Homo sapiens: one gene and its partner. The protein of the gene in region 1 purifies or fractionates together with the protein of each later gene. This does not show direct contact. Each region holds a gene or a part of one and is shown on either strand. Other genes may lie near its edges. The genes, in order: KCNMB1 and KCNMA1.

Region 1 (3,916 bases):
CTGTTGTTTTTATTTGTTTAAAGTAACCAGAGTCCATTTCTACCAAAAATACCAGGAAGCTATCAATGTAATCCTCCATTTTAGGGGAAATTTTAGGGGAATTTAGGGGAAATTTTAGCCAGATATCAGGGGGACTTTATTCTCCTTGCCAGGTCCCTAAAGTAATAAACATATTATGGTTTTTGTTTGTTTAATTAGCCAGTGTCCGGGTGACAGGCCTTAGTCCAAAGAGATTTTCTGCAAAGTGCTCTATTTTCTGCTCAGGCGTCTCTTAACTACTAGACTGTTTCAAATATTCAGAGATTCTTGACTCCCTCCCCTTAGCCAGGCTGCCCTCATACCCGGGCATCTCCGCTAAAGGGAAGAGACCAGGGTCAGGCACCACGGATACCCATCACACCTTCCCAGTGAGCTGGTCCACCTCCCCTATCGATCGGCAGAGGTGACATCCAATGACAACTTTTTCTCCTTTATTTGGCACCAGGAGGTGAGTTTCTCCTGCATTCTAATGGAGACATTATAAAAGCACAAGCAAGCAGAAATTGCCCCCGACAAAGAGAGATGTTTTATTCAACTCTTTTTATTCAATCCTTTTCCTCCTGTTCTGTGATCTTGTGGGAATGGGAGAGCCCATGCCTTTTTCTACCTGGCGTCAGTTGAACAAGACTCTCCATGTATTCACAGGTAAAGCAACAGAATCACCTGGAGGTAAGCTAAAAGCCCCAACAGCCTGCTTCCCCAGGACCTGCAAGGGTCACTGGCACTTGGCCCCACCCCAGATACTGTGAGACATAAATCATTTGAAGCCAATGGGAAATCCCATCTTGGAAGCCTAGGGCTGAGTGCCCACAACAAAGCCATTTCTCTCCTGGGGGAACTGGATCGCACCTGTGGGGGCTTCCTGTGGCTCCTTCCTGGCTAATCAGCCCCCCCCAGCGCCCAGGGCCATGGCCTCCTCTGCTATTTGGCTTCTAGTGCCCTCTCAGGCCCCTGGGCACTCCTGAGGCTGGTGAAGGCAGGAACCTGGTTTTACCAGTTTTAGGAGCTCAGAAGGAAAGGAAAGGAGAGGCTTCCCTGTCACAGAGAAGTCTGGAAACTTGGCTTATTCAGGTCTGACCCGTCTCTAATGGTCTGATGAGATTGTTGCCTGCACTGAGTGAGTTTATAGAGTCATGATAAATCCTCCTAAGACCATGCGTGGGGTTCAGTGTAGATATGACTTCAGCAAGAAGTTAGTATTCAGCATCCAAAGGGAGAACCTTTGGCGGGAGGAAGGATGGGAACTGTCAATATCCCCCAAGGGACAGAAAGAAAAGGAAGAAGTGGGTTTCAGCTATCATAGGAGGGATTTCAGTTAGACTGTAAGAAGAACTTCCCAGTTTTGAGCATTTCTAAATATCTCTGAAGTTCCAGGATATATCTTCCCATTTAGAAAGGTCACTTGAGATCTGGGATAGATTCAGAGAAGATGGAGAAGGACAAAGGAAGGCAGGACTTTGGAGTGTCCTGGGTGACCTGATAGCTGGGTCGACATCCTTTTCCTTAGAAGGACAAGGAATAGAGTACATTGTTGAACAGTTTGGTGGGGTGTGGACAGGGCGATTCTGAGGTCCTCAGACATGGAATCAAATCCTGGCTCTGCCACTTACACTTAGCAACCACATGACTGTGAAACGAGAACCATGGTACCTGCCTCAGAGAGTTCAGCTAAAGATCAAATGCCATATTGAGTATCAGACATGTATCATAGCACCTAGCCCCAAATCAGCCCCCAGTAAATATTAGCTATTACTACTAACGAAGGAAACCCTGAAAGTTTGGAGCAGAAGTCTGGACCCCTCTTGATGAATCTATTTTTGTCCCACCTCTCTACCGGTGACAAGTGCCAGCATTGGTGTTAATCTCCAGGCTGCAGCCTTCTGGCCACTCTGAGAACTGGGACCTAGAGGGCCAGGGCGCTTACTACCAGAGTAACCTGGCCACTGTGCCACCCTCCCCACTGGCCACCAGACCACGGGCCCTCCATCCAGAAGGACAGCCCCGAGAGGAAGGGAGTCCTCCTGCCTGCCTCCCTCCCTGCCCCGTGGCAGGCTGCTTTCCCCTGTCTCCCTCCAGCCCGGTCTTCAGAGAAATCACTTCCCAAGTGCTTTCAGGCCCGGTACTCACAGTCTTCCCGGCGTCCTGTGGGTCTTGAGCAGCAGACAGTTTCTTTCTGCCTGGACCCCCGCCCCCACCCCAAAAGAGGCCACAGAGCTTCAGCAGGAAGTTTGGCCTCCCCGCCCGTCTCCAGGGAAGCAGCTTTTGGTCCCCATCTGGGGCAAGCCTCCATGCCCAAACATGGTCAAGTCTGAGCACACAGCCTGGAGACACAGACTCGGAGAGCAGGTACCCAGCCCTGAGGAAGGCAGCTGTTACCCAAGCCCTGCACCTCCATCTTCCCAGAGTCTCGTGGGAAACAGATTTCAAACAACAACAGACAGCAAGACTGAGAAACTACGAAAGATCAGCCTGGTATATTTGGAAATATTTCTTCTTCTCTCTGTCTCTGTGGGCTGGCAAAGATGCCAGAAATAGGAAATGATTCTCCTTTTGTTGGCATGAGGAAGGGTGGAGTTGGGCTGGAGGGGTTGGGCTTGTCACTAGTCCCTGGCATATCCACGCTGGAGCAGCTACAGCTCCCTGCCTTTGGCACTTACGTGCTGTGTGACCCTGAGCAAGTTATGGCACCTCTCTGGGCCTCAGTTTCCTTTTTTGTTTTTGGTTTTACTCCCAAACTTATCGTTAAATGACCTCAGTTTTCTCACTTGTGTTACTGGCATTTTTAAAACCTACTTTGCTTTAGGGTAGTGATGGGAGTTAGAGACGGTGGGGATTTATGGCAAGGGGAGAGAACTGACTTTTTAAGGACCAACTGAGCTGAAGCTGGGAGTAGTGAGAGCTCCACAACTGCTTCCAACCAGGTCCAGGGACAGTCTGCTCACCAGGGGCCCTCCCAGAGACCGCGAAAGTACAGAGATTTCTTCCTAGCAATAAGACAAGTGAATGTCAGCATTTGCAGGCAAAAAACATGCTTTTAGATCTCTGCTTCTTCATCTGTAAAGTGGAAGTAAGGATTAAAAATCAGCAACAAAGGGCAGGCACAGTGGCCCACGCCCATAATCCCAGCACTTTGGGATGCCAAGGTAGATGGATTGCTCAAGCCCAGGAGTTTGAGACCATCCTGGGCAACATGGCGAAACCCCATCTCTACTAAAAATACAAAAATTAGTCGGGCATAGTGGTGCATGCCTGTGGTCCCAGCTACTTGGGAGGCTGAGGCAGGAGAATCGCTTGAACCTGGGAGGCGGAGGTTGCAGTGAGTCAAGATTGTGCCACTGCACTCTAGCCTGAACAGAGCGAGACCCCGTCTCAAAAAAAAAAAACAAATATATATATATATATATATATTTTCAACAAAACAACAAAAACAATCCCAGATATTGGGGCTTTCCTAAGTATCAGGCGTGGTGGTAGAAGGCAGCTTATCTCCACCCTTCACTTGACCCAAGAATCAAAGAACCTGAAACTGAGACTTGGAGGCTTGAAGTCACTGGTGCAACCCTAGGGGCCAGAACTAGATTCGAAGCTGGCCCTTCCAGATGGCACAGCTTGGTCTGTCTCTGATGACCCTGGGGCTGCTCTGAGACATTAAAAATCACCTCGATCATACAGTAAGCTGCCACCTGAGGCTCTGGAGGTCACCCTGAGTTTCCCCAGCCCCCAGGGAGGTGGGTGCAGCCTGGCCTTCCCTGCTGAGCGAGCTCACCACCTTCCTCCCTCCTGCCTCCAGCAGGCGCGAAATGAAGGCAGCCACTCAGGCCTCCCTGACACACTCTCAGGCGGTGAGTGCCCTTCTCCACCCCTTTCCTAATTGAAT
Region 2 (3,816 bases), on another chromosome or scaffold:
AAAAAGGATGTTTCTCTCTGTTCTTTTGCTGTCTCCCAGGATGGTGGTTGTTATGGTGATCTGTTCTGCAAAGCTCTGAAAACATATAATATGCTTTGTTTTGGAATTTACCGGCTGAGAGATGCTCACCTCAGCACCCCCAGTCAGTGCACAAAGAGGTGAGTATTGGTTTCAACTCTGCCCTCCCACCTAATCACAGAAATATTAATATCCTTTCCTGTCCCCTACTGTAAAGGCAAAGGTCTGTATACATCTCCTCAACATGCAAATTACTCTGCCCATATTAAATCCAACACTGAGTTTGGAGGTGATGGGAAGCATTTTTCTATAATTACTAATAGTAGATGTAAAGACATTTTGGTAAGAATTCAAGTTTTGTATTAATAGAATAATTCCATCACCTAATTACAAAAGTCTGAATACACAAACATCTCTCCCAAACTCTAGCTACTAGGATAACATCTGTTGGTACCTAATATAGAGATATTTTACATTGCTAGTGTTTAAGATAAGTTTTTTTGTTTTTTTGTTTTTTGTTTGTTTGTTTTTTGAGATGGAGTGTTGCTCTGTTGCCCAGGCTGGAGTGCAGTGGCACAATCTTGGCTCACTGCAACCTCTGCCTCCTGGGTTCCAGTGATTCTCTTGCCTTAGCCTCCTGAGTAGCTGGGATTATAGGCACACACCACCACACCCAGCCAATTTTTGTGTTTTTAGTAGAGAGAAGGCTTGTTGGCCAGGCTGGTCTCGAACTCCTGACCTCAAGTGATCCACCCACCTCGGCCTCCCAAAGTGCTGGGCTTACAGGTGTGAGCCACCACACCCCGCCCTAAGATAAGTGGTTCTTCTGCCATATCTCAGAATCCCATATTTTTACTTCACATATTTTAAATTGACTCGCTTTTTAACTTTTATATATTTATTTTTGAGACAATTATATATTATCACCTTAAGCAGAGAAATAACAGTTTAGATGTGCCAATTATATTTTTCTCATATGCATTAAAATAAATTCATAGCAGGCAAAAATTAAAAGTACATCCTAGAATTACCAAGATCAGTGAGTTTGCATAATATACCCTAGGCAACAGTGCTGCAGAGACAAGCGTTTCTCATCCCTGCTTGCATAGTAGAATCACCTGGGGAGCTTTTAAAAAATATTCTGATTACTCTAACTTAACTGGTCTGGAAGGAAGAAAACATCATATATATATTTTAAATTATGTAAACATTTTATATATAATAACCAGGGATTATAGTGTATAGCCAGAATTGAGAACAATTGCTATAGACCAGTGGGTTCTCAAAATTTAGCCATCATGAGACTCACCTGCAGAGCTTGTTCAACCACAGATTGCTGGACCCCATCCTCAGCACTTCCAATTCAGTAGGTCTGGGTGGGATTGCTTAAGAACTTGCATTTCCTAGTTCCTAGGTGATGCTGACCTGTGTGGCCTAAGGACCACACTTGGTGACCACTGCTCTAAGTGAAACAGCGTGATTTTCTTAGTCACATCTGCTGTTGACCAAAGAAAGCTCCAACTAATTGTGAAGAACAACAAAGTAGTGCTGATAAGTAGGCAGGTTTCTTAGATTCTTCCATGTGGTGAATTCCAAATTCCAAATTCTCTCACCAAAGTAGATTTTAAAAGGTAAAGAGCGAGAATAGTCTAAGGAGACACTCTGTCATGGTAAACAAAGATCTTGTGATGTATATCTGGGATTGTCCGAAAATTATGAAATGAAAGTTGCATCACACTTCATGAAACCTCTTGCGGTTGGGCTACTTGAAAGTGACTTTGACCTTGTATAGAAAGGTACATGTAGACCACGAGAAGCGAAGTTTGGTTCTTCCATTACTGGCTCTAATTCCACATCTCTGCCTGGGCTCCTGGCTGGCCTCCTTTATTGAGTTAAACAGAGGAAGTTTCCATTTAACAAGAAAAAGAATGTTTAAGGCCTCAGACCAGCTAGGAGTGCATCTTCCAGATCCTCTGAAAGTCCTGAGTAACCAGGCCATTGCTTTTGGTTCAGAGAGAGTTGAATTCTTTACTCAGTTACTCTCAGGAGGTGACATCTCTGCTTTCCCTGTCCAGGTATGTCATCACCAACCCGCCCTATGAGTTTGAGCTCGTGCCGACGGACCTGATCTTCTGCTTAATGCAGTTTGACCACAATGCCGGCCAGTCCCGGGCCAGCCTGTCCCATTCCTCCCACTCGTCGCAGTCCTCCAGCAAGAAGAGCTCCTCTGTTCACTCCATCCCATCCACAGCAAACCGACAGAACCGGCCCAAGTCCAGGGAGTCCCGGGACAAACAGAAGTACGTGCAGGAAGAGCGGCTTTGATATGTGTATCCACCGCCACTGTGTGAAACTGTATCTGCCACTCATTTCCCCAGTTGGTGTTTCCAACAAAGTAACTTTCCCTGTTTTCCCCTGTAGTCCCCCCCTTTTTTTTTACACATATTTGCATATGTATGATAGTGTGCATGTGGTTGTCATTTTTATTTCACCACCATAAAACCCTTGAGCACAACAGCAAATAAGCAGACGGACCAAAAGTTATTTATGATTCTGGGGGAAAAATAACCCAAAGGCATGCTCCAGACATAAATAGCTCACTGCAGGAACGAGTTCACAGATTAGAAGGGAGCACTTGTGATCAACGTCAGTTAGGCAGAGCAAGTTTATTTAATGTAAAAGAAAAGTTGATTCTGATTTATCAGGATTATCAGGGTGCTTTGGGTTTTGATTTTGTTGTTGTTGTTGTTTTCCTTTCTTTCTTTTTTTATACACACAATAAGTTAGCACATGTTTATTTGAAACAAGCAACCAAACAGCAATGAAAACATATTGATTGTTTCCAGTCTCTGGGCCGAAGTATTGCGAAGCATTTGAAAAGCTTTCACGATTTGTGTAGATGATTATGAAGGACCTGCTTGTTGCAAGAGAACATCAGTGATTTTTTTAGTTACTCACCAAGGCCTTTTGTCCCAGAGCCAGTTCCCTCTGGGAGTTCTTATGAACATTTCTCACCTTAATATGGAGGAGAGAATAGTATTCCAATCATGGATGTATCAAATTCTAGTCATTTAGTTTAAGTGAAAAGAGGTTTGATTGCATATTAAATTGTTATTCTGTCTCCTTATGTTGCCATATGAATAGCTATTTTTTTTCTTTCACTTTTGACATTTGGGATGAAAAGCCATATGTATCATAAATATCAGATGTAAGTCATTAAAAACTGCCTTCCTGGGACTTTTACATCTTTTAAAAGGTGAATTACTTACCTTATGTACAGAATAAATAATGCTCAGGAAAGAGCAAGTATTTTTCCATGCATTCTCAGGGGATCTTTTTACTCCCCTTTGTTTGATTAGTTAGGGCCCCAATGCCAGGTAGGAGGAAGGGCTGGGGCAATGGTAGAGTGAGAGGAAGACAAACCCAGCTGCAGATCATGCTTTTCTAGGAGCCGACATGCTAAATAAATTAGAATGTAGGAGGATCAGCCACAGTTGACTCAACAAAGACAAAAGCCAGCCACCACCTTCAACTGTTGGCACAGCTGTGCGGTGCTGGCTGTCCCAATGCAGAAAGCTGGTGGGAAGGAATTCCTCATCATCACTTTCTTTAATGTAGCCAATTTAGGCAGGGTAATGACGGCAATAGAGAGCTGCTCCTTGTCATTATGAGACGTGGGATAAGAAGAGTGCAACAGTGAGCCAAACACATTTTGGTATAGTTATTTTTTTCTTCTTTTGTTTTCTTTCTTTTTTAACACTTAGTAAGCATGAGAGGAGAGGTAGAAAAATACCCTTT

What was found.
Region 2: the proteins of KCNMB1 (region 1) and KCNMA1 purify together in Homo sapiens (affinity purification with western blotting, with the first as the bait; one study listed by BioGRID). This does not show direct contact.

Annotation. Positions count from the first base shown.
Region 1 is NC_000005.10:170,387,093-170,391,008, forward strand, and holds the start of KCNMB1 (calcium-activated potassium channel subunit beta-1), read right to left. Parts: upstream 2,276-3,916; 5' UTR 2,167-2,275; intron 1-2,166. UniProt on the Homo sapiens protein: Regulatory subunit of the calcium activated potassium KCNMA1 (maxiK) channel. Modulates the calcium sensitivity and gating kinetics of KCNMA1, thereby contributing to KCNMA1 channel diversity.
Region 2 is NC_000010.11:76,885,793-76,889,608, reverse strand, and holds part of KCNMA1 (Calcium-activated potassium channel subunit alpha-1), read left to right. Parts: intron 1-39; coding exon 40-158; intron 159-1,327; exon of another isoform or gene 1,328-1,565; intron 1,566-2,093; coding exon 2,094-2,343; 3' UTR 2,344-3,816. UniProt on the Homo sapiens protein: Potassium channel activated by both membrane depolarization or increase in cytosolic Ca(2+) that mediates export of K(+). It is also activated by the concentration of cytosolic Mg(2+).